Linked DNA regions of Homo sapiens: regions 1 and 2 are each linked to region 3. The links come from fine-mapping of genetic effects on gene expression. A gene starts in region 3. Each other region holds a variant in brackets. All regions are shown on one strand. Distances are from middle to middle. Region 1 overlaps SPTBN4 (spectrin beta, non-erythrocytic 4). Region 2 overlaps PLD3 (phospholipase D family member 3). Region 3 holds the start of PLD3 (phospholipase D family member 3).

Evidence for each region. PIP is the estimated chance that this variant, and not a neighbour inherited with it, causes the effect. A credible set is the group of variants that fine-mapping cannot tell apart.
Region 1: its variant is the best candidate, but not a certain one, in a credible set for the expression of PLD3 in whole blood (INTERVAL, PIP 0.89).
Region 2: its variant is the best candidate, but not a certain one, in a credible set for the expression of PLD3 in sigmoid colon (GTEx, PIP 0.77).

What each region holds. Positions count from the first base shown.
Region 1 is chr19:40,499,575-40,505,795 of GRCh38, reverse strand. SPTBN4 (spectrin beta, non-erythrocytic 4) reads right to left here. Exons shown (of 36, transcript NM_020971.3): 8 at 3,763-3,875; 9 at 3,481-3,668; 10 at 3,289-3,406; 11 at 2,863-3,021; 12 at 1,664-1,966. Among named protein-coding and RNA genes, the nearest start is that of SPTBN4, 36 kb to the right of the region's middle. The variant C/T (reference allele first, on the strand shown) is at 2,458.
Region 2 is chr19:40,375,500-40,383,455 of GRCh38, reverse strand. It overlaps PLD3 (phospholipase D family member 3), which reads right to left. Exons shown (of 13, transcript NM_012268.4): 11 at 6,682-6,847; 12 at 5,571-5,670; 13 at 4,971-5,470. The coding sequence ends at 5,283. HIPK4 (homeodomain interacting protein kinase 4) reads left to right here. Exons shown (of 4, transcript NM_144685.5): 3 at 2,288-3,133; 4 at 3,687-4,185. The coding sequence ends at 3,869. Among named protein-coding and RNA genes, the nearest start is that of MIR6796, 9.6 kb to the right of the region's middle. The variant T/C (reference allele first, on the strand shown) is at 4,292.
Region 3 is chr19:40,345,203-40,353,158 of GRCh38, reverse strand. It overlaps PLD3 (phospholipase D family member 3), which reads right to left and starts at 4,464. Exons shown (of 13, transcript NM_012268.4): 1 at 4,391-4,464. C19orf47 (chromosome 19 open reading frame 47) reads left to right here and starts at 4,762. Exons shown (of 9, transcript NM_001256441.2): 1 at 4,762-4,835. RefSeq lists an enhancer at 4,518-4,807 and a silencer at 4,798-4,887.

The DNA of each region.
Region 1 (6,221 bases), 150 kb before region 3:
CTGTTCACCTTCCTGTCTGTGTCTCCTGTTCACCTTTCTTTCTTCCTTCCTTCCTTCCTTCCTTCCTTCCTTCCTTCCTTCCTTCCTTCCTTCCTCCCTTTCATTCTTTTTTCTTCTTCTTTTTTTGAGACAGAGTCTGCCTCTGTCACCCAGGCTGGAGTGCAGTGGCGCGATCTCAGCTCACTGCAAACTCCACCTCCCAGGTTCAAGTGATTCTCCTGCCTCCCGATTAGATGTACTTCGCCCGGCTAATTTTTGTATTTTTTAGTAGAGATGGGGTTTCGCCATGTTGGCCAGGCTGGTCTTGAACTCCTGACCTCAGATGATCTGCCTGCCTCAGCCTCCCAAAGTGCTGGGATTACAGGTGTGAGCCACCGTGCCCGGCTTCTTCTTTTTTTTTTTTTTTTTTTTTTGAGACAGGGTCTCACTCTGTCATCCAGGTTGAAGTGTAGTGGTGCAATCATGGCTCACACAGCCTCAACCTCCTGGGCTCAAGCGATCCTCCCACTTCAGAGTAGCTGGGACTACAAGCGCACACCACCACGCCTAGCTAATTTTTTTTTTTTTTTTTTTTGTACAGACAGGATCTCACTATGTTGATCAGGCTGGTCTCAAACTCTGGGGCTCAAGCAATCTGCCTACCTCGGCCTCCCAAAGTGCTGGTACCGCAGGTGAGAGCCACCATGCCCAGCTGGCTTCTATCTTTCTTGTCTCATCTCTCTCTAGATCTGGTAGGTCTCTCTCTCTCTCTCTTAAATTGATTCCATCTTCCTGTATCTTTCTCTGTAGTCATGTAGATTTCCATGTCACCTTTGTGTCTGCCTTCTCCTCTCTCTGTCTCTCTGATTTCCTCTCTCTCAAACTGTCACTATCTCTCTGTCTGCATCCCTGGTTTACTCTGTTTCTATATCTCTATGTCTTTTTTCATTTCTCTCTTTTTTTTTGAAACAGAATCAAACTCTGTCACTCAGGCTGGATGGAGTGCAGTGGCACCACCTTGGCTTACTGCAGCCTCTGCCTCCTGGATTCAAGCAATTCTTGAGCCTCAGCCTCCCAAATAGCTAGGACTACAGGCACACGCCACCACGCCCAGCTAATTGTTTTTTGTTTTTTTTGTTTTTTTTTTTGAGACGGAGTCTCGCTCTGTCGCCCAGGCTGGAGTGCAGTGGCGGGATCTCGGCTCCCTGCAAGCTCCGCCTCCCGGGTTCACGCCATTCTCCTGCCTCAGCCTCCCAAGTAGCTGGGACTACAGGCGCCCGCCACTACGCCCGGCTAATTGTTTTGTATTTTTAGTAGAGATGGGGTTTCACCATGTTGGCCAGGCTGGTCTGAAACTGCTGACCTCAAGTGATCTGCCCTCCTTGGCCTCCCAAAGTGCTGGTATTACAGGTGTGAGCCACCGTGTCCAGCATGTTTCTATTTCTCTCTATTTGTCTCTGTCTCTTTCTCATTCTGTGTTTCTTTGTCTGCCTCTCTTGTCCATCTCTGTATCTTTCTCTCCCTCTCTCTCTTGTTCTCTCTTTTTGTCTCCCTGGCTTTCTCTCTATCTTCTTCTATCTCTGCCCTTCCCTCTCCATCTCCAGCTGTCTGACAACTCTTTCAGCGTCTGCATCCTCCCCTCCCTCCTGGCACTCCACCCGCATCCCCGCCCCCCCGCCGGCACCTGCATCTCCTCCATCCAGTCCACCATGTACACCATCTCCTGGAAGACCTTCTGCAGGGCAAGGTTCTGCTCAAGTCGTGTCCGCCGGGCACCCACAAGCCCAGTTAGCAGGGCCCACTGGCGCAGGACGCTGTCACGCTGGGCTGCCACCCGCCGGATATCGTAGTAGCCTTCGGCTGCCAATGCCTGGGCCAGCTCCGCCACACCCTGCACCCGCTCCTCGTAGGCCGCAATGTCTGCCTCGATCGCTTCGTGTTTCTTCATGGCTGCCTCCACTGCGGGCAGCTCATACCCAAAGTTGTCCTGGGGCAGTGAGCCAGACACTCACCCATGCTGCCTCAGCAGTCCACCTGTTACCTTGACCCTGTGTGACCCTGGGGACTCCCCACTCCATTACCTTGGAGACTGGCCCTGCCCTCCCTAGTTATCCTGGAGACCAGCCTCATCCTCCCCTGTTACCCAGGTAACCTGGAGACCAGCCCCACCCTCCATTGTTACCTTGGAGACCAGCCCCACCCTCCCCAGTTACCCTAAAGACCAACCCCCCATCCCCTGTTGCCCTGGAGACCAGCCCATCTTCCACAGTTATCCTGGAGACCAGCTCCACCCTCCCCTGTTGTCCTGGAGACCAGCCCAATCTTCCCCAGTTACCCTGGAGACCAGACCCACCCTCCCCTGTTGCCCTAGAGACCAACCCCACCTTCCCGTTTCCCCAGAGACCAGCCCCACTCTCTCCAGTTACCCTGGAAACAAGTCCCACCCTCCTGTTACATCTCTAACCTTAAACTTGTTAC[C/T]CAGGAAGGAGGCCCATGCTTCCCCTGTCCTGGAGATTAGGGACCAGGTTTACCTGACTCTGTTACTTAGGAAACCAATTCTATCCTTCTGAGTTACCCTAGACACAAGATACAACCTCCCTTGTCACTTAAAACACTCCCCCATTCCTGAAAAGATGAATTCTGCCCTCTCTAGTTACCCTGGAGACCAGCCTCACTCTCCCATTACCCTGGAGATCAGGCCCATTCCCCTCACCCAACAATCACTTGGAAGGCCAAGTCTCCCATCCCCATCCTCATTTATCACCAGGAGACTAATCTAACTCTTCCCTGTTGCCTAGAAGATCAAGTCTCCCTCTCTGGTCCCAGGACCATCAGCCCCGCCCTCCGTCCCTTTACCCTGGAGCCAAGCCCTACACCTTGTACCTGGGAGACCAGACGCTGGTTCTCATTCAGCCAGCTCTCCCTCATAGCCACCTTGTGGTCAAACCTCTGTGCCAGTAGTTCCAGCTTCTCCTGCCGAATCAGCTCAGCCCGTAGGGCAGCCTCCCGCTCATGCTCAGCCTTCTCCAGCTCACCCCATGCCTGCAGGAGATGGGAGGAGGCACTCAGACTCTGACAGCTCCCCACAGTTTAATGGTCTTGACTTAGTCTGAGGTCACTCATAGCATTATGGCAACTTCATGCAAATTGGAAAAAATATTGCTTCCTTATGACACTTTACTACTGAAAAACTGTCAGAATGAATATCTAATCCATCATGTCTACAATGTGAATGATTCCCTTGAGCAGTGTGCAACCTATACAACTCCACAGTGCAACCCCGCCTCTCCCCTGCATCCCCGGCCTCACCTTGTCAATATCCCAGATGCCACAGCCCTCCCGAGGCACAAAGAGGCGACGGTTGCAGGCACGCAGTTTGCTCTGGATGCTGAAGAGCAGCACCTCTAGGTTCCCCTTCTCCTGGAACCTGAAGGGGCATGAGCTCAGGAGCCCTGCCGTCATGCCACCCCTGCCCACCCTCCCTCCAGAGCTGGGCCTCACTTGACAGGCTTCTCCAGCGTGCAATAGGCCGTGAAAGCCTGGAGTTGCTGCTGCACCCCACTTAAGGAGTTGGCAAATTTCTGATTGCTGATGAGGCCCACGGTGCGGTGGATCCAGGCCAGCAGCTCAGCCGCCAGCTCCTCGTAGCGTTCTATGATCTTCCCCACCTCCAATACCTGGTCCAAGACCTGACACAGCAGAGGAAGGGGGGTCAGCCTCATCCCACCCGTGCCTGCCACCAGCTTCCAGCTTCCCACTCACCCACTCCTTGGCTCCTTATACCTTCCCGATACGCTTCCCCTCCACAGCCAGAGCCTTCATCTTGGAGAAATAGTGGTAGAAAGAGACCACGTAGGTGATGATGGACTTCTCATCTGGAGCCTCCATGTTCACATCTGGAAGCAAGAGGGAGTGGGGAAACAAGACAGTGGGCACTTTGACAGAGTGCTTGAAGGTATTGGATGGAGGGATGGAGAAGCCACTCTCACTAGCTGTGTGACCTTGGGCAAGATAATTAACCTCTCTGTTCCTCAGGTTTTGTATCCGTCAAATAGAAATCTACCTCCTGGAATTAAATAGTGCCTGACACATATAAACCACCGCAGAGAAATAAGCTATACTTTTCTTTTTCTTTTCTTTTTTTTTTTAAGATGGAATTTTGCTCTTGTTGCCCAGGCTGGAGTGCAATGGCACGATCTCAACTCACTGCAACCTCTACCTCCCAGGTTCAAGTGATTCTTCTGTCTCAGCCTCCCAAGTAGCTGGGGTTATGGGCATGCACCACCATGCCTGGCTAATTTTATATTTTCAGTAGAGACAGGGCTTCACCATGTTGGTCAGGCTGGTCTCGAACTGCTGACCTCAGGTGATCCGCCCACCTCGGCCTCCCAAAGTGCTGGGATTACAGATGTGAGCCACCGCACCTGGCCTATATTTGTTTCTTGAACACACCTTTCTACCTTCCACCTCAGGGCCTTTGCATGTGCTGTTCTCACTGTCTGGAGCACTGTTCCTCTTCTGTGTTCCTAATTCCCACTTATTCTTCAGAGCTCAACTTTTTACTTTTTTTTTTTTCAAGAGATGGAGTCTGGCTCTCTTGTCCAGGCTGATTGTGCAGTGGTGCAATCATAGCTCACTGCAGCCTCGAGCTCCTAGGTTCAAGCAATCCTCCCACCTCAGCCTCCTGAGTAGTCAGAACTAAAGGTGTGAACCACCATGCCTGGCTCAACTCAAATTTCCTTAGACAAGCCTCCATGTTCACTCTGTCTATAGTTGATAATCCTCATGTTATTCTCCTCTTAGCATCTTATGATGTCCTTCCCAGAATGTATCACAATTTGTAATTACATATTCACTTATGTGATTATGTCATTATCTAGAGCTTGAGCTTCATGAGGACAAACACTATGCCTGTTTCCTTTCTTTTCCTTTCCTTTCCTTTCCTTTCTTTTCTTTTTCTTTCTTTTTTTTTGAGACAGTCTCAAGCTATTGCCCAGGCTGGAGTGCAATGGCGTGATCTTGGCCCACCACAACCTCTGCCTCCCAGGTTCAAGCAATTCTCATGCCTCAGCCTCCCAAGTAGCTGAGATTACAGGCACACACCACCACGCCCGGCTAATTTTTTGTAATTTTTTAAATAGACTTTTTATTTTTTATAAAACATAGACAGGGTCTCTCTGTGTTGCCCAGGCTAGTCTTGAACTCTTGGGCTGAAACAATACTCCTGCCTCAGCTTCCCATAGTGCTGGGACTATAGGCGTGGGCCACTATAGGCGTGGGCCCAGCCGTATGCCTATCTTCTTTATCACTGTTCTGTCTTACCCAGCACACAGTAGGTGCTAAATTAAAATTTAGTTAGCTTGCAAATTGTGCACAAGGCTTGATGTCAAGAACATAGGCTTTGGAGGCAGCATGCACTTGGATCCCAGTTCAACACTTACTCACTGCATGTCCTTAGAAAATAACCTAGCTTCTCTAAGCCTCAGTTTCCCCATTGTTATAATAAAGATTATCATGGTTCCTGCCTCCTGGGAACAATGTAAGTATTAGAAAGACTAGCCTGGCACAGAGGGGAAACTCAACAAATTCTAACATCACTTTAATTGGTTGTTGTTTTTTGCTTTTTGAGTTGGGATCTGGGGTGCAGTGTTGTAATCAGAGCTCACTGCAGCCTCGAACTCCTGGGCTCAAGTGATCCTCCTGCCTTGGCCTCCTGTGTAGCTGGGACTACAGGTTTGTAGATATGGGATTTCACTACATTGCCCAGGCTGGTCCTGAACTTCTGGCCTCAAGCGATCCTCCTGCCTTAACCTCCCAAAGTGCTGGGATTACAGGCACAAGCCATCACCATGACTGAGTGATATCATTTTAATTTACCCACTGGATGCACAACAGTATACCTGGCCTTTATTCTTCACTGCCTTGTCCAACTGACATCCATTAGCACCTACTACGTACCAGGCACTGAGCACAGGATACAGCTATAAGAGGCAGGGTAGAGGACTGATTAAGACCATGAATTCTGGAGCCATAAGGTCTGGTTTCCTGATTTTCAGTGTGATGCTGGGCAAGTGACAACATCCCTGAGCTGTCATTCTCATCACTTTGGAAGACAGGTTAAGCCAGGCATGTGGCTCGGGCCTGTAATCCCAGGCACTCTGGGAGGCCAAGGTGGGAGGATCGCTTGAGTCCAGTAGTTTGAGACCAGCCTGGGCAACATAGCGAGACCCCACCTCTACCAA
Region 2 (7,956 bases), 30 kb before region 3:
ACAGAGCAAGACTCTGTTTCAAAAAGAAAAATCTATCAGACCAGAAGAATGGAGTGAAAAGAACAAAAAACAGAGGCTGGGTGTGGTGGCTTACGCCTGTAATCCCAGCACTTTGGGAGTCCGAGGTGGGTGGATCACGAGGTCAGGAGTTCAAGACCAGCCTGGCCAAGATGATGAAACCCAGTCTCTACTAAAAACACAAAAAATTAGCTGGGCGCAGTGGCAGACGCCTGTAATTCCAGCTACTCGGCGGGCTGAGGCAGGAGAATCGCTTGAACCCAGAGGGCGGAGGTTGCAGTGAGCCGAGATCCCACCACTGCACTCCAGCCTGGGCAACAGAGTGAGACTCCGTCTCAAAAAAAAAAAAAAAAAAAGAAAGAAAAGAAAAATATTTTTTTCTTTTTTTTTTAAGACGGAGTCTTGATCTGTTGCTCAGGCTGGAGTGCAGTGGTGCGGTCTCAGCTCACTGCAACCTCTGCCTCCCAGGTTCAAGAGATTCTCCTGCCTCAGCCTCCTGAGTAGCTGGGCTTACAGGCACCCACCATCACACCCGGCAATTTTTTTGTATTTTTACTAGAGACGGGGTTTTACCATGTTGGCCAGGCTGGTCTCAGACACCCGACCTCGTGATCCACCCACCTCGACCTCCCAAAGCAGTGAGATTACAGGCATGAGCCACCGCGCTCGGCCAAAAAAATATTTTTTTAATAATTGAAAAAAAAAATTTCTGGGCTAAACCTCAATGAGGACTGGAACTTGGGGGTCAGCCTAGGGCATTTTCACAGCAAGAAAGAGCTGCATGAGATCAAATGTGGGACTGGTCAGCAACTGCAGCAAGATAGATCTGGGGGAGAAACTGCAGGGAGAATTAGATGTTTGGAAGTCAGATGTGGGGGCTGCTCTAGCAAGAGAGATCTGGGTCATACTATAAGTGTGACAGGACGATTGGGGCAGCTTCTCTGCCAGCTTCAGCTCCGGGGTCAGCAACTTGTGTGGCAAGAGGGATTAGACCACAGAGAATATATGAGGTCTGAGATTGGCTATGAGAATTGCGAGAGAGGCCAGGTGCAGTGGCTTATGCCTGTAGTCCACGCACTTTGGTGGGGGCCAAGGCAGGAGGATCACTTGAAGTCATTGTGGGCGACATAGCAAGACCGTGTCTCTAGAAAAAATTTTTTTTAAAATTTAGCCAGGCATGGTGGCACACACCGGTAGTTCCAAGCTACTTGGGAGGCTGAGGTGGGAAGATCACTTGAACCCAGGAGTTGGCAGTTGCAGTGAGCTATGATTGCACCACTACACCCCAGTCTGGGCGACACAGCAAGACCCTGTTTAAAAAAAAGGATCTAAGGCCAGGCACAGTGGCTCACACCTGTAATCCCAGCACTTTGGGAGGCCGAGGTGGGTGGATCACCTGAGGTCAGGAGTTCGAGAACAGCCTGGCCAACATGGTGAAACCCCATCTCTACTAAAAATACAAAAATTAGCTGGGCATGGTGGTGGACACCTGTAATTCCAGCTGCTCAGGAGGCTGAGGCAGGAGAATCGCTTGAACCTGGGAGGTGGAGGTTGCAGTGAGCCGAGATTGTACCACTGCACTCCAGCCTGGGCAACAAGAGTGAAACTCTGTCTCACACACATACAAAAAAAAAAAAAAAAAAAAAAAAAAAAGGATCTGAGTGAGACCTCAGGTGAGTCTAGAGGTTTGGGGCAGCAGCCAGTCTGCTACCTCTGTGGCTTTGCCCCTCCCATCTGTGCAGCAAGAGCCTGGGTTAGACAGCAGAGGGGACTAGGAGTTTGAGGTCATAGGTCTTGATTTCACAGCAAGAAGGGTCTGGATGGGACCACAGGTGAGACTAAAAGTCAATGGCAGTTTAATAGCAGGGGGTGACAAACTACTATAGCAAGAAGGGTCTGGGTTTGACCACCAGGAGGCCTGGGATCAAGTGTGGAGCTGTGGCAGTAAGAGGGACCTGGATTTGATTCCAGGGAGGACTAGAGATTCCGGGCAGCCCTTCTGCTAGCTGCTGGTAGGGGCTGCACCCATGGTGCTGAAGGGGACTGGAGGTCTGGGGCAAGGGGTGGAACTTGGGCCAGTGATTTGGGTTCGATTAGAGGGGCTTGGGTGTGACGGATCCAGGGTGGCCCTCCTAGCAGCCAGAGAGCTCCAAGGCAGATCATGGGCAGACCTGGAAGTCGGGGCTACATGTGGGTGCCACAGCAGGAGTGCCCAGGGCCCTAGCCCTGCACAATGGTCAACCCTGCCCCCTTCTCCATGCCCCGCCAGGTGCGCCCATTGGAGCGCCGCAAGTATATGCTCAAGTCGTTGGACCAGATTGAGACAGTGAATGGTGGCAGTGTGGCCAGTCGGCTAACCTTCCCTGACCGGGAGGCGCTGGCGGAGCACGCCGACCTCAAGAGCATGGTGGAGCTGATCAAGCGCATGCTGACCTGGGAGTCACACGAACGCATCAGCCCCAGTGCTGCCCTGCGCCACCCCTTCGTGTCCATGCAGCAGCTGCGCAGTGCCCACGAGACCACCCACTACTACCAGCTCTCGCTGCGCAGCTACCGCCTCTCGCTGCAAGTGGAGGGGAAGCCCCCCACGCCCGTCGTGGCCGCAGAAGATGGGACCCCCTACTACTGTCTGGCTGAGGAGAAGGAGGCTGCGGGTATGGGCAGTGTGGCCGGCAGCAGCCCCTTCTTCCGAGAGGAGAAGGCACCAGGTATGCAAAGAGCCATCGACCAGCTGGATGACCTGAGTCTGCAGGAGGCTGGGCATGGGCTGTGGGGTGAGACCTGCACCAATGCGGTCTCCGACATGATGGTCCCCCTCAAGGCAGCCATCACTGGCCACCATGTGCCCGACTCGGGCCCTGAGCCCATCCTGGCCTTCTACAGCAGCCGCCTGGCAGGCCGCCACAAGGCCCGCAAGCCACCTGCGGGTTCCAAGTCCGACTCCAACTTCAGCAACCTCATTCGGCTGAGCCAGGTCTCGCCTGAGGATGACAGGCCCTGCCGGGGCAGCAGCTGGGAGGAAGGAGAGCATCTCGGGGCCTCTGCTGAGCCACTGGCCATCCTGCAGCGAGATGAGGATGGGCCCAACATTGACAACATGACCATGGAAGCTGAGGTGAGCCGGGTGCGTTCAGGATACGATTAGGGTGGGAGGAGGCTCAGCACACACTCACCCGTGCTCAGGATATGATTAGTGTGTGAGGAGGCTCAACACACACTCACCCATGTTCAGGATACAATTAGGGACTTAGGAGGCTCAGCACACACCTAATACCGTCAAGATATGATAAGGCTCAGCACTTACTCAGCTACTTCCAGGCTGTGACAAAAACTCAGGGCACAGTAATCTACTTATAAGAAGCTTGATAAAGAGCCTGGGCAACATAGTGAGATCCCGTCTGCACCAAAAAATTAGAAATATTAGCTGGTTTTGGTGGCATGCACCTGTAGTCCCAGCTACTCAGGAGGCTGAGGTGGGAGGATCACTTGAGCCAGGGAGGTCGAGGCTGCAGTGAGCTGTCATCACATCACTACAAAGGGGCAATAAAGGCCCAGCACTGGTAAGACCCTAGCACATGCTCACCCTCATCAGGAGGAGGTGACAGAGGCTCAGCAGACACTAATACACTAACACTGCTTGGCTGATGCCCCTCTCTCTTCCCCCACAGAGGCCAGACCCTGAGCTCTTCGACCCCAGCAGCTGTCCTGGAGAATGGCTGAGTGAGCCAGACTGCACCCTGGAGAGCGTCAGGGGCCCACGGGCTCAGGGGCTCCCACCCCGCCGCTCCCACCAGCATGGTCCACCCCGGGGGGCCACCAGCTTCCTCCAGCATGTCACCGGGCACCACTGATGGTGATTCCACCCCTGCCCATCACTGGGGGCTGCGCTAGCTGGGCTGGCATTCCCTCCCAACCTGAACTGCTCCTCAGAGCCATCTCCTGAACCCACAAATTATTCTTACAGAAAGATAGTTATCCAGAAATTCTCATTCCCCGTCTGCGGTGCGGTGCGTGCCTGCACACCTCTCCTAAACACAGCAGGGCTTTGGAGTCTGGCCCATGCTCCTTGGCCAGAAGGACAGCAGGAAAGGGGGCTGCACCCCGCTGGCCCTGCGCTCGCCCTTGGCCCTGCTGCCTCTGTCTATTTCAATATAGAACTGTTCAGCAGTCCTGCTTCAAGCCTGCTCTCACTGCCTGGGGCTTGGACTGGCCCTGGGGGGAATGGGGGCTCCAGGCTGGCACCCAGTGACTTGCTCTGCGATGCTGGGCCCAG[T/C]TGACCACTGGCTTAGGCGGGAGCCTGGGCTGCTGTCACACTAGGAGGGAAAAGCTGTGCTTGGTTGACTAACCCTTGTCCTAAATACGCTATGTGCTTGGCGTGTTGGGAATCCACCCTCAGAACATGCTGTGTTCAGTATGTGTTAATCAAGTTTGCCGGATGCTGGGGTCTCCTTGTCTGTTGACCTGTCCTTCCTACATGTTTACAGGGTTGGCATGCACTCACCCACATTTGGGACGTGCTGGGTGTAAATCCACTTGGCAGGCCTAAATTCACACTTGGTGCACACTCTGGTGCTCAGCCATGCTTGTTCACCCTTGGGATGTGGCAATGGTTTGGTCCCTGCTGATCAATCTGGGAACATGCTTCTCTGCAGCACATACCCATGCTGGCTACATGAGTGCTAAGTCCATGCCGGGCCACAGGGTGGCACGCTGCATGCTCAGCACAGGTCAGCCCATGTACACTACATGTTAAGGGCTCAGCACATGCCAACCCATGCCAGCACATGCTGAGGGCTCAGTACATGCTAACCCACACTGGTCACACACTGAGGGCTCAGCACATGCCAGTGACATGTTGAGGGCTCAGCACAAAAAGATGTCCCCACCAGAGGCCCATGCCAGCTGTCCCCTACCCCTGCACCCCATCTCACACCACTCAGTCAGGCACAGGCTGTACAGACAAGTTATTTACTTATTATAACCCTGGGCCCTTTTTGCCCTGGAAAGTGGGGGTGGGCCAGGGGGCCAGGCCCAGCATGCACCCCCATTTCTTTGGGGGCTGATCCCTCCCCCAGCTCTGCTGGGTCCCGGGGCCACAGCGTCAGGCCGGTGGGGGTGGAGGTAGAGGTGGGAGAGCAGGGGAGAGAGCCTGAGGAGCCACAATGGGGCAGACAGAAGCGGGGGCGCGGGGACAGGGACCGTGACCCAGAGCACCTGGGTCCGCGGGGGCCCAGCAGGCCTTGGCCTGCCCACTGGATCGGGCCTCAGAGCAGGCGGCAGGCGTTGCCCACGCTGTCAGCTGAGGTGTCAAGGTCATGGCTGTAAGGGGAGTCCCAGTCCCTCAGGAAAATGGCCTCCAGCTGGCTCCGCAGGCCGCCCCTCCCATTCTGCGTCACCAGCAGCGAGGTGCCCGCCGTCTCCGTGAAGTAGTTGCCAGACCAGTTGGAGGTTCCTAGAGAGGAATGGGTGGAGCATAAGGGCACCCTCGGGGGGCCGCCCCTGGTGTCTGAACCCCCTCTTCTTCAGCGCCCCGTGGTGCTCAAGACACTCACCGATGTAGGTGGCGCGTTCAGTCACCATGTACTTGTTGTGGTTGACACGGGCATATGGGATTCGAGCCTGGGCCTCATCCGCGGGGACCACAAAGAGTTTCTGAGTGGGAGGGGAGGATGGGAAGGAGTGTGAGAGGCAGGGGGAGTCGGAGGAGCCCCGGGATCAGGGAGCAGAGTGTGGAGCGAGATCTGTGGGACTCCACTGCTTCCCACAGAATCCTCGGGGGCCAGAACAGGGCCAGGTGGAGGGGCCCTCTGAGAACGAAAGCTGAAAGGGAGGCCCCGGTGGTCTCATTTGCAAAACACTGTTCCCGGCAGAATGGCTCCTGTTCATTCCTGAGGTCTCATCTCAGATGCCCCCATTTCCAGAACATCTTCCTTGGCCCTTCCCGCTAGGGCAGAGGCTTCCTCTGGGCATCCCCACCCCAGCCCTGACCCCTCTGCCTGTGCCCCCCGACCCTGGCCCTGACCCCTCTGCCTGGGCCTCCTCCATCCCAGCCCTGACCCCTCTGCCTGTGCCCCCCCATCCCAGCCCTGACCCCTCTGCCTGTACCTCCTCCATCCCAGCCCTGACCCCTCTGCCTGTGCCCCCAACCCCAGCCCCGACCCCTCTACCTGCCCACTCCCCCAGTCCTGGTCCCAAACCCTCTCTCTGTGCCCCCCACCCCAGCCCTCACCCCTCTGCCTGGGCCTCCTCCATCCTGGCCCCGACCCCTCTGCCTGTGCCCCCAACCCTGGCCCTAACCCCTCTCTCTGTGCCCTCCAACCCGGCCCCGACCCTTCTGCCTGTGCCTCCCCATCCCAGCCCTGACCCCTCTGCCTGTGCTCCCAATCCCAGCCCTGACCCCTCTACCTGCCCATGTCCCCATTCCTGGTCCCAACACCTCTCTCTGCACCCCCATCCCGGTCCCAACCCCTCTGCCTGTGCCCCCTCATCCCGGTCCTGGCCCCTCTCCCTGTGCCCCATGACCCTGGCCCTGACCCATGGTTTCCCCACAGTGACAGGGCTCACTCTGGGCTGCCCTTGTCATTGACAGACGAGTCCCATGAGGGCTGTGTCCCTAGGACTGCCCCACACAGGGGCCAAGGGGTGGCTTGGGGCAGTACTTACCACCTGGATGTCAGAGTGGGTATGGTTGTCACGCAGGGCAGCCAGAGAGAGCAGGAAGGCCCGCATGGATGGCTCCGAGTGTCCCCAGCAGCTGATGAGCAGGCGCACCTTGACGCCACGCTCGTAGGTGGCCCGCCGCAGCCCATCGTCAATGGCAGGCCAGAACCTGAGGACGGGTGTATAGGAGGTGGGGCAGGATGCAGAGGGCGGCTGTGTCCACAGGCTTTGCCCTCAGCTTTGGGGAACCAAGCCTGGGCCCTGCTTTAGCTATTGAGAGGACTTCCTCATCGCTGGCTCCCAGACCCTGTTCCTGTCTCCATAAATCCCACATCCCTATTTCCTCTTCCTGGCTGTGGCTCCCATTCCTGCTCCCCAAAACCCAGTGTTGTCATCCTCTTTTATTCTTTCTTTTTTTTTTTGAGGTGGAATTTCGCTCTTGTTGCCCACGCTGGAGTGCAATGGCACAATCTCGGCTCACTGCAACCTCTGCCTCCTGGGTTCAAGCGATTCTCCTGCCTCAGCCTCCCGGGTAGCTAGGATTACAGGCATGCGCTACCACGCCTGGCTAATTTTGTATTTTTAGTAGAGACGGGGTTTCTCCATGTTTGTCAGGCTGGTCTCGAACTCCCGACCTCAGGTGATCTGCCCGCCTTGGCCTCCCAAAGTGCTGGGATTACAGGCGTGAGCCACTGTGCCCGGTCCATCCTCTTTTTTTTCTTTTTGAGACAGGTTCTTGCTCTATCACCCAGGCTGGAGTGTAGTGGCACGACCATAGCTCAATGCAGCCTCCAACTCCTGGGCTCAAGTGATCCTCCTGCCTCAGTCTCCTGAGTAGCTGGGACTGCAGGTGAGTGCCACCGCACTGGGCTAATCTTCCAATTTTTCTATAGAGACGGGGTCTCATTATGTTGCCCAGGCTGGTCTCAAACTCCTAGGGATCCTTCCGCCTCGGCCTCCCAAAGTGTTGGGATTACAGGCGTGAGCCACCATGCCTGGACCCACTGTCTTATCTACTGCCCCTAGAATACCTTCTTTGAGCCCCACAAGTGCCATCATCCACCTGGATGTTGCAGTGGGTATGGTTGTTATCCTTCTTTTTTTTTTTCTTTTCTTTTTTTTTTTTTTGAGAAGGTGTCTCGCTCCGTCGCCCAGGCTGGAGTGCAGTGGCATGATCTTGGCTCACTGCAACCTCCGACTCCCGGGTTCAAGCGATTCTCCTGCCTCAGCCTCCCAAGTAGCTGGGACTACAGGCGCCTGCCACCACACCTGGCTAAT
Region 3 (7,956 bases):
GAATTTGAACCCAGAGCTCAGTTGTATTCCAGGGCAGTACATGGTTGAACTAATTCATGAACAAAACAATGCAAAATCTCCCTTCATCACATCAGGCGAGGGACCCTGCAGCTTGAGGGAGGCGTGAGCCTGCAAAAGTGCAGGGTGTGGAGTGAGACAATGGGGCTTCTTGCATTCATTTTTGATTTTTTTTGAGACAGGGTCTCCTCGCTTTGTTGCCCAGGCTGGAATGCAGTGGTGGGAACACATCTCACTGCAGCCTGGAACTCCTGGGCTCAAGTGATCCTCTCGCCTCAGCCTCCTGAGTAGCTGGAACCACAGGTGTGTGCCACCATGCCCAGCTAGTTTTTTATTTTTTTGTAGAGTTGGGATCTCACCACATTGCCCAGGCTGCTATTGAACTGCTGGGCTCAAGTGATCTGCCTACCTCAACCTCTCAAAGTGCTGGGATTACAGGCATAAGCCACTGTGCCTGGCCTCAAAGCACTTAATATATTTGTTTTATTTTTTTAAATTGGACTTAATATATTTAATTTTCACAACAGTCCTCTTAAAAATCCCACTTAGGGAATTAAGGATCCAGAGAGGTGAAGTCACAGGTATAAAGAGAAATAGGATATGTGGTAAGCCTGGAACTGGACTTTGGTTAAAAAAAAAGAGAGAGGAAATGGAGCAAGGATTTGAACCCAAGCTGCCTCAAGCTTCCAGGGACAGATGCCACATGACAGCTGCCTCTCCTGTTGTTCATCATCTGTAGATCCCCTGCTGCCTGCCCCCCACCGTCTGGGACAGCAGCTGAACCCCGTGGTGGCGCCGGCCTCTCAAAAATTCCGTTAGCATTTCCCTAGCCTGCCCTCAAATTTTATGACTATTTATTTATTTATCTGAGATGGAGTCTTGCTCTGTTGCCCAGGCTGGAGTGAAGTGGTGTGATCTCGGCTCACTGCAACCTCTGCCTCCCGGGTTCAAGCGATTTTCCTGCCTCAGCCTCCTGAGTAGCTGGGATTACAGGCACAAGCCACAACGCCCAGCTAATTTTATATAATTTTGGTAGAGATGAGGTTTCACCATGTTGGTCAGGGTGGTTTCGAACTCCTGACCTCAAGTGATCCGCCCGCCTCAGCCTCCCAAAGTGCTGGGATTATAGGCGTGAACCACCACGCCCGGTCTCGATCTTTGACAGGGATATTTGAAACTTTCTCCCAACATAAAGGATATGTGAGTGCGGACTGAAGAAGATTCTGGCTCTCTTTCCAATAAGGCTGCCTCTCACTAGTCGATCCTGGGTAGAAGTTCTGGAGCTGCCACAGCTCAGGGTGATGGCTTCATGTCACACTGGACCGCATCCCTCCTCGGCTCCACATCCTCCTGTGGCACCCACCTCACTGGGAGTAAAAGCCAGCCTTCTGCATGGCTCACAAGGCCTTCCACGATGTGCCCCATCACCCCTCCAATGTCGTCTCTTGCCCCTCTCCTCTCTCACTGACCTCCTTGCTATTCCTTAAATATTCCAAGCTTGCTCCTACCGCAAGACTTTTGCTTTTGCTGTTCTCTTTGCCCAGCATGCTGTTCCCCCAGAGGGCCATGTCACTCTTTCTTTCTCTCTCTCTTTTTTTGAGACAGAATCTCGCTGTCGCCCAGGCTGGAGTGCAATGGCGCAATCTCAGTTCACTGCAACCTCCGCCTCCCTGGTTCAAGCGATTCTCCTGCCTCAGCCTCCTGAATAGCTGGGATTACAGGTGTCTGCCACTATGCCTGCCTAATTTTTTGTAATTTTAGTAGAGACGAGGTTTCACCATGTTAGTCAGGCTGGTCTCGAACTCCTGACCTCAGGTGATCTGCCAGCCTTGGCCTCCCAAAGTGCTGGGATTATAGGCATGAGCCACTACGCCTGGCCGTTTTTTTGTTTTGTTTTGTTTTTTTGTTTTGAGACAGGGTCTCCGTCTGTTGCCCAGGCTGGAGTGTATTGGCAAAATCATGGCTCACTGCAGCCTCGAACTCCCAGGCTCAAGCGATCCCCCCACCTCTCAGCCTCCCAAGTAGCTGGGACCACAGGCGCACACCACCATACCTGGCTAATTTTTGTAGAGATGGGGTTTCGCTATGTTGCCCAGGCTGATCTCAAACTCCTGAGCTCCAGCGATCCACCTTCCTCAGCCTCCCAAAGTGCTGTGATCACAGGCGTGAGCCACCGTGCCCAGCCCTACTCTCTCTTCTCCTTCAAGTATTTGTTTCAAATGTCACCTTCTCAGAAAGCTTTCCCTGACCACCCTATTTAAAACTATAACCTTGACCCCACATTCCCCATGCCCCTTCTAATACATCCAATAATCTACTTACCTATTTACCCATTGCCTCTTACCCCCACTAGAGTGTAGTACACAGTCCATAAGGCCAGATTTTTTTTTTTTTTTTGAGATGGGGTCTCACTCTGTCACCCAGGCTGGAGTGCAGTGGTGCGATCTCAACTCACTGCAGCCTCCGCCTCCTGGGTTCAAGCAATCCTCTCACCTCAGCCTCCCGAGTTGCTCAGATTTTAGGGGCGCGCCACCATGCCTGGCTAATTTTTGCATTTTTAGTAGAGATGGGGCTTCACCATGTTGTCCAGGCTGGTCTCAAACTCCTGGTCTCAGGTGATCCACCCACTTCACCTCCCAAAGTGCTTGGATTACAGGTGTGAGCCATTGCGCCAGGCCGAGATATTTTTGTCTGTATTGTTCATTGAGGTATCCCCAGTGTCTAGCAGTGTTGGGCACATATATAGTACATGCTTAAGAATTATGTGCAGAATGATTAATTTGTGTTTTCATTCCCATATTGCAGATGCAGTAACTGAGGCGCTGGGAGGTTAAGTTAGTTGCCCAAGATCATGCAGTTTTTTTTTTTTTTTTTTTTTTTGAGACGGAGTCTCGCTCTTGTTGCCCAGGCTACAGTGCAATGGCACGATCTAGGCTCACTGCAACCTCCGCCTCTCAGATTCGAACGATTCTCCTGTCTCAGCCTCCCGAGTAGCTGGGATTACAGGCATGTGCCACCATGCCTGGCTAATTTTGTATTTTTAATAGAGATGGGGTTTCTCCATGTTGGTCAGGCTGGTCTCGAACTTCCGACCTGAGGTGATCCGCCCGCCTCGGCCTCCCAAAGTGCTGGGATTACAGGCGTGAGCCACCGCGCCTGGCCTATTATTATTATTTTTTTTTGAGACGGAGTCTCGCTCTTGTTGCCCAGGCTGGAGTGCAATGGCGCGATCTCGGCTCACTGCAACCTCCACCTCCCCGGTTCAAGCCATTCTCCTGCCTCAGCCTCCCGAGTAGCTGGGATTATAGGCATGCACCACCACGCCCGGCTAATTTTGTATTTTTAGTAGAGACGGGGTTTCTCCATGTTGATCAGGCTGGTCTCGAACTCCCGACATCAGGTGATCCGCCCACCTTGGCCTCCTAAAGTGCTGGGATTACAGGCATGAGCCACCGCACCCGGCCGAGGGTGACATGGTTAATAACAATATTAGCCAAAAACACCATGTCAAGCTGAGCCTACCACAAGAATAAACTCACAGAATCGTCACACTCAGCCCTGATGTGGATGTCCCCGTGTGCATTTTGCAGATGAAGCTGGGATTGGAAAGGTGCCATAAGGCAGTCAAGGTATCCAGAGGTGTAGTGGTGGGGCTGGGATTCTGACACACCCCAGGTAATGGGCTGCAGTACCCCGTATGTTATGTGAGATGTGACACGGGGAAATGACGAAGACACGGAGGGAAGAAAAATAACTGTAAGGCTGGGTGGCTCCTTATGGGGAAAACTGGAAGCATGAGGAGTGGATGGTGACTGGTCAGAGGAACAGTGATGCCAAGGGAGGGACAAAGACACAAGGGGTAATGATGACGTAAGAGTTGCATTAGCGCGATTTAAGAAGAGCGATGGGGACAGTAGCCATGCGAAGGTGACTTGGGGGTATGATGAGGGTTTAAAGAGAAATGAGGATTTTATAAAGGAGAAATGGCAACAAAAGCAGGATGCAGGTAACATATGGCGATGACGAATTTAAAGGGAGCGATTACGACCTATGGTGGCAAAGAGGGCTTACAGGGAACGAAAGCGAGTTAAGGGCGTTGATGACAACAAGAGGAGTTGTGAGGATTTAAAGAGGGTGATGGCGACAGAAGGAGTTGTGAGGATTTAAGTGGGATGAGACAGAAGGAGAGGAATGGTGACATAAAGAGACCGAGGACGACATAAATTATAGCGTGGAAGACAACGCTATAATTATATATATTATATTCCATATATTATATTCCATATAATATATATTATATTCCATGCATTATAGCGTGGAAGACAACACGAGGAGGGTAGCCGAGGCGCCGCGCCCCCAGATCGCACAGTACCTGCACTCCACGTCTCCCACTCCGAGACCCAGCCCCACACGCACCTTCCAGGCTGTATCCCCGCCTGACGGCCCCTCCTAGCCGCGCGCAGGCGCACTACGGCTAGACTGCAGGCCGGCGGGGGCCAGGCATGCGCCTTTCTCATTGGCCGCGCCGCTTGCTAGCTTCGGGCGGAGGGGAGCGCCGGGCCGACGGTGGGCGGTCACGTGACGGTTACGACTGCACTCTCGCTGGTGTCGGTGGGCGGTCACGTGATGGTTATGGCCGCACTCTCGCTGGTGGCGGCCTGTTGGGGTAGAGCGGCCGCGGACGAGTCAGTTCAGCTTCCGGCGGTGAGAGGATGCTTCCGGGGCGGGCAGCCCGGGCCGGGGGAGGAGTGTCTGACAGTTGGCGCCGCCGGGAGGGAGGGCGGGCGGCGCGAGTGGGCGCGGGCCCGGTGGGCCAGGTGAGGCGCGGGCCGGGGGTGGTGGGACTGGGCCGGTTGCGGTAGGGACGGGTGGCGTCCGGGTGTCTGGACTCAGTTCGGGCTCCGTTGTACGGCTTCGGACTTACGATTTGTTTCTTTGAGCCTCAGTTTCCTCCCCTGTGGAATGGGGGTTAGAATCCGACTGTATCACCGGCTTTATAAATGGGAGTGAGAAGTCAGGTCGTGTACGTTGGATGCCTTAGCTCAGCGCCTCCGCATAACGCTCACTTCGTTACTATACTATTATTATTAGTATTGATGTTTGAGCGCTTAGTATGAAAAATTGTTGGGTTTGGAAGCCGTCGAATTTTGGTTCAAGTCCCGCTCCACTGTGCGGCAGTGGGGCCTGTGTCTTCGCTTCCTTGAACCCCGTTTTTTCTCATCTGTACAATGAGAGCAGATAGTCCCAATATCATAGGGTCGTCTTGAGGATTCTGATGAAATCTGTGTGTGTAAAGATTTTAAGCAGAGGGGCTGGCACAGTGAGAGCTCGTGGATTGGGACTATAATGATAATGATTCTGAGAGTCATTGGTGTAGCTGGGAATTCCAGGGAAGCTGGGGGAGAAAGCTCAGAGACAGCAATAGGAAAAACTTAGAATTGGAGCCGGGGAAATCGACATCCTGTCACTTACTATTTGACCAATTTTGCTGAGTCCTGAAGTACTAGTTTTTTTCTTTTTCTTGATAATGACTAGTGCATTTTTTTCCCCAGTAAGTTAATTTGAGAAGGCAAATTTGCATTGCTGTCTTCTTCTTTTTTTTTTCTTTGAGACGGAGTTTCGCTCTTGTTGCCCAGGCTGGAGTGCAATGGTGCAATTTCGTCTCACCGCAACCTCCGCTTCCTGGGTTCAAGGGATTCTCCTGCCTCAACCTTCCGAGTAGCTGGGATTACAGGCATGCGCCACCACGCCCGGCTAATTTTTTTTGTATTTTAGTAGAGACGGGGTTTCTGCATGTTGGTCAGGCTGGTCTCGAACTTCTGACTTCAGGTGATCTGCCCGCCTCTGCCTCCCAAAGTGCTGGGATTACAGGTGTGAGCCACCGTGCCCGGCGCATTGCTGTCTTCAATGGAAAACTAGCATTGCTGGCCATGAGAGGAAGGAAAAGTTCAGGTAAAATACAATGGAAACTGAACAGCCCATTACATTGTACACTGAAATGGAAAGATAATTGAAAAGGAATACTACGTATTCCCTTTGAATAGGGATACTGTTCAGAACCTGTACTGTGTGATTCCCTGTTGTCAGATCCCATGGACCCCCATTAAGTTGTCCTTATACTTGTTCCCAGCTCACACTTTGTATAAAACTAGCATTAAGTCAGTGACTGTCCCACTGTTTCCCTAGCTTACTGAAGATTTGTTTTATTTGATGCACACTTAACATCGCACTTAACCACCTGCCGTGCATCTTTGTTCTAAGGACTCTGTTTATTAACTCGTTTAATCCTTGTAACACCTTTAAGAATGGGTCCTTGGCTGGGCGTGGTGGCTCACGCCTGTAATCCTAGCACTTTGGGAGGCCGAGACGGGCGGATCACGAGGTCAGGAGATAGAGACCATCCTGGCTAACACGGTGAAACCCCGTCTCTACTAAAACTACAGAAAATTAGCCGGGCATGGTGGTGGGGGCCTGTAATCCCAGCTACTTGGGAGGCTGAGGCAGGATAATTGCTTGAACCTGGGAGGCAGAGGTTGCAGTGAGACGAGATCACGCCACTGCACTCCAGCCTGGGCGACAGAGTGGGACTTCATCTCAAAAAAAAAAAAGGGTCCTCTTTTTTTTTTTTTAAGATGGTGTTTTTTTATTTTTATTATTTATTTATTTATTTATTTATTTATTTATTTATTTATTTATTTGAGACAAGGTCTCGCTCTGTTGCCCAGGCTGGAGTGCAGTGGTGCGATCTTGGATCACTGCAACCTCTGCCTCCCGGGCTTAAGCAATTCTCCTGCCTCAGCCTCCTGAGTAGCTAGGATTACAGGTGCCCACCACCACGCCTGGCTAATTTTTGTATTTTTAGTAGAGAGGGGTTTCACTATGTTGGCCAGGCTGGTCTTGAATTCCTGACCTCAGGTTATCCACCTGCCTCAGCCTCCCAAGGTGCTGGCCAAGAATTGGTAATCTTACTTTTTTTTTTTTTTTTGAGATGGAGTCTCACTCTGTTGCCCAGGCTGGAGTGTAGTGGTACAGTTTCGGCTCACTGCAACCTCTGCCTCCTGGGTTCAAGTGATTCTCCTGCCTCAGCCTCCCGAGTAGCTGGGATTACAGGTGCCTGCCACCATGCCCAGCTAATTTTTTGTATTTTTAGTAGAGGCGGAGTTTCGCCATGTTGGCCAGGCTGGTCTCAAACTCCTGACCTTGTGATCCACTGCCTTGGCCTCCCAAAGCGTTGGGATTACAGGCATGAGCCACTGCGCCCAGCCACCTTTCCTTTTTTTTTTTTTTTTTTTGAGACTGAGTCTTGCTCTGTTGCCCAGGCTGGAGTGAAGTGGCGTAATCTTGGCTCACTGCAACCTCTCCCCCCCCCGCCCCGGGTTGAAGCGATTCTCCCACCTTAGCCTACTGAGTAGCTTGGATTACAGGCATACACCACCATGCCTGGCTAATTTTTGTATTTTTAGTAGAGATGGGGTTTCACCATATTGGCCAGGCTGGTCTCGAACTCCTGACCTCAGGTGATCCACCCGCCTCAGCCTCCCAAAGTGCTGTGATTACAGGCGTGAGCCACCACGCCCAGTTTTTTTTTTTTTTTTTTTTTTTTTAACAGTGACAGGGTCTCGCTATATTGCCCAGGCTGGCCTCAAAATCCTGGGCTCCAGAGATCCTCCTGCTTCGGCCTCCCAAAGTGCTGGGACTACAGGTGTGAGTTACTGTACCCGGCCTTACCATTCTTATTGTGCAGTTGAGGGAAGTGAGGTCAGAAAGGTTAAGCTACTTGTCCAGAGTCAGGATTAGGACGTGGTAAAATTGGGATTTGGATACAGGTCTTCTAAGGGCTTAGCACATGGAGTCTGGTATGTGGTAATCCCTTGAGTTTTGGGAGCTGCTGTCTTTAAAATCACTATTATAATTTTCACTATTCGGAAAGTCAGTGCT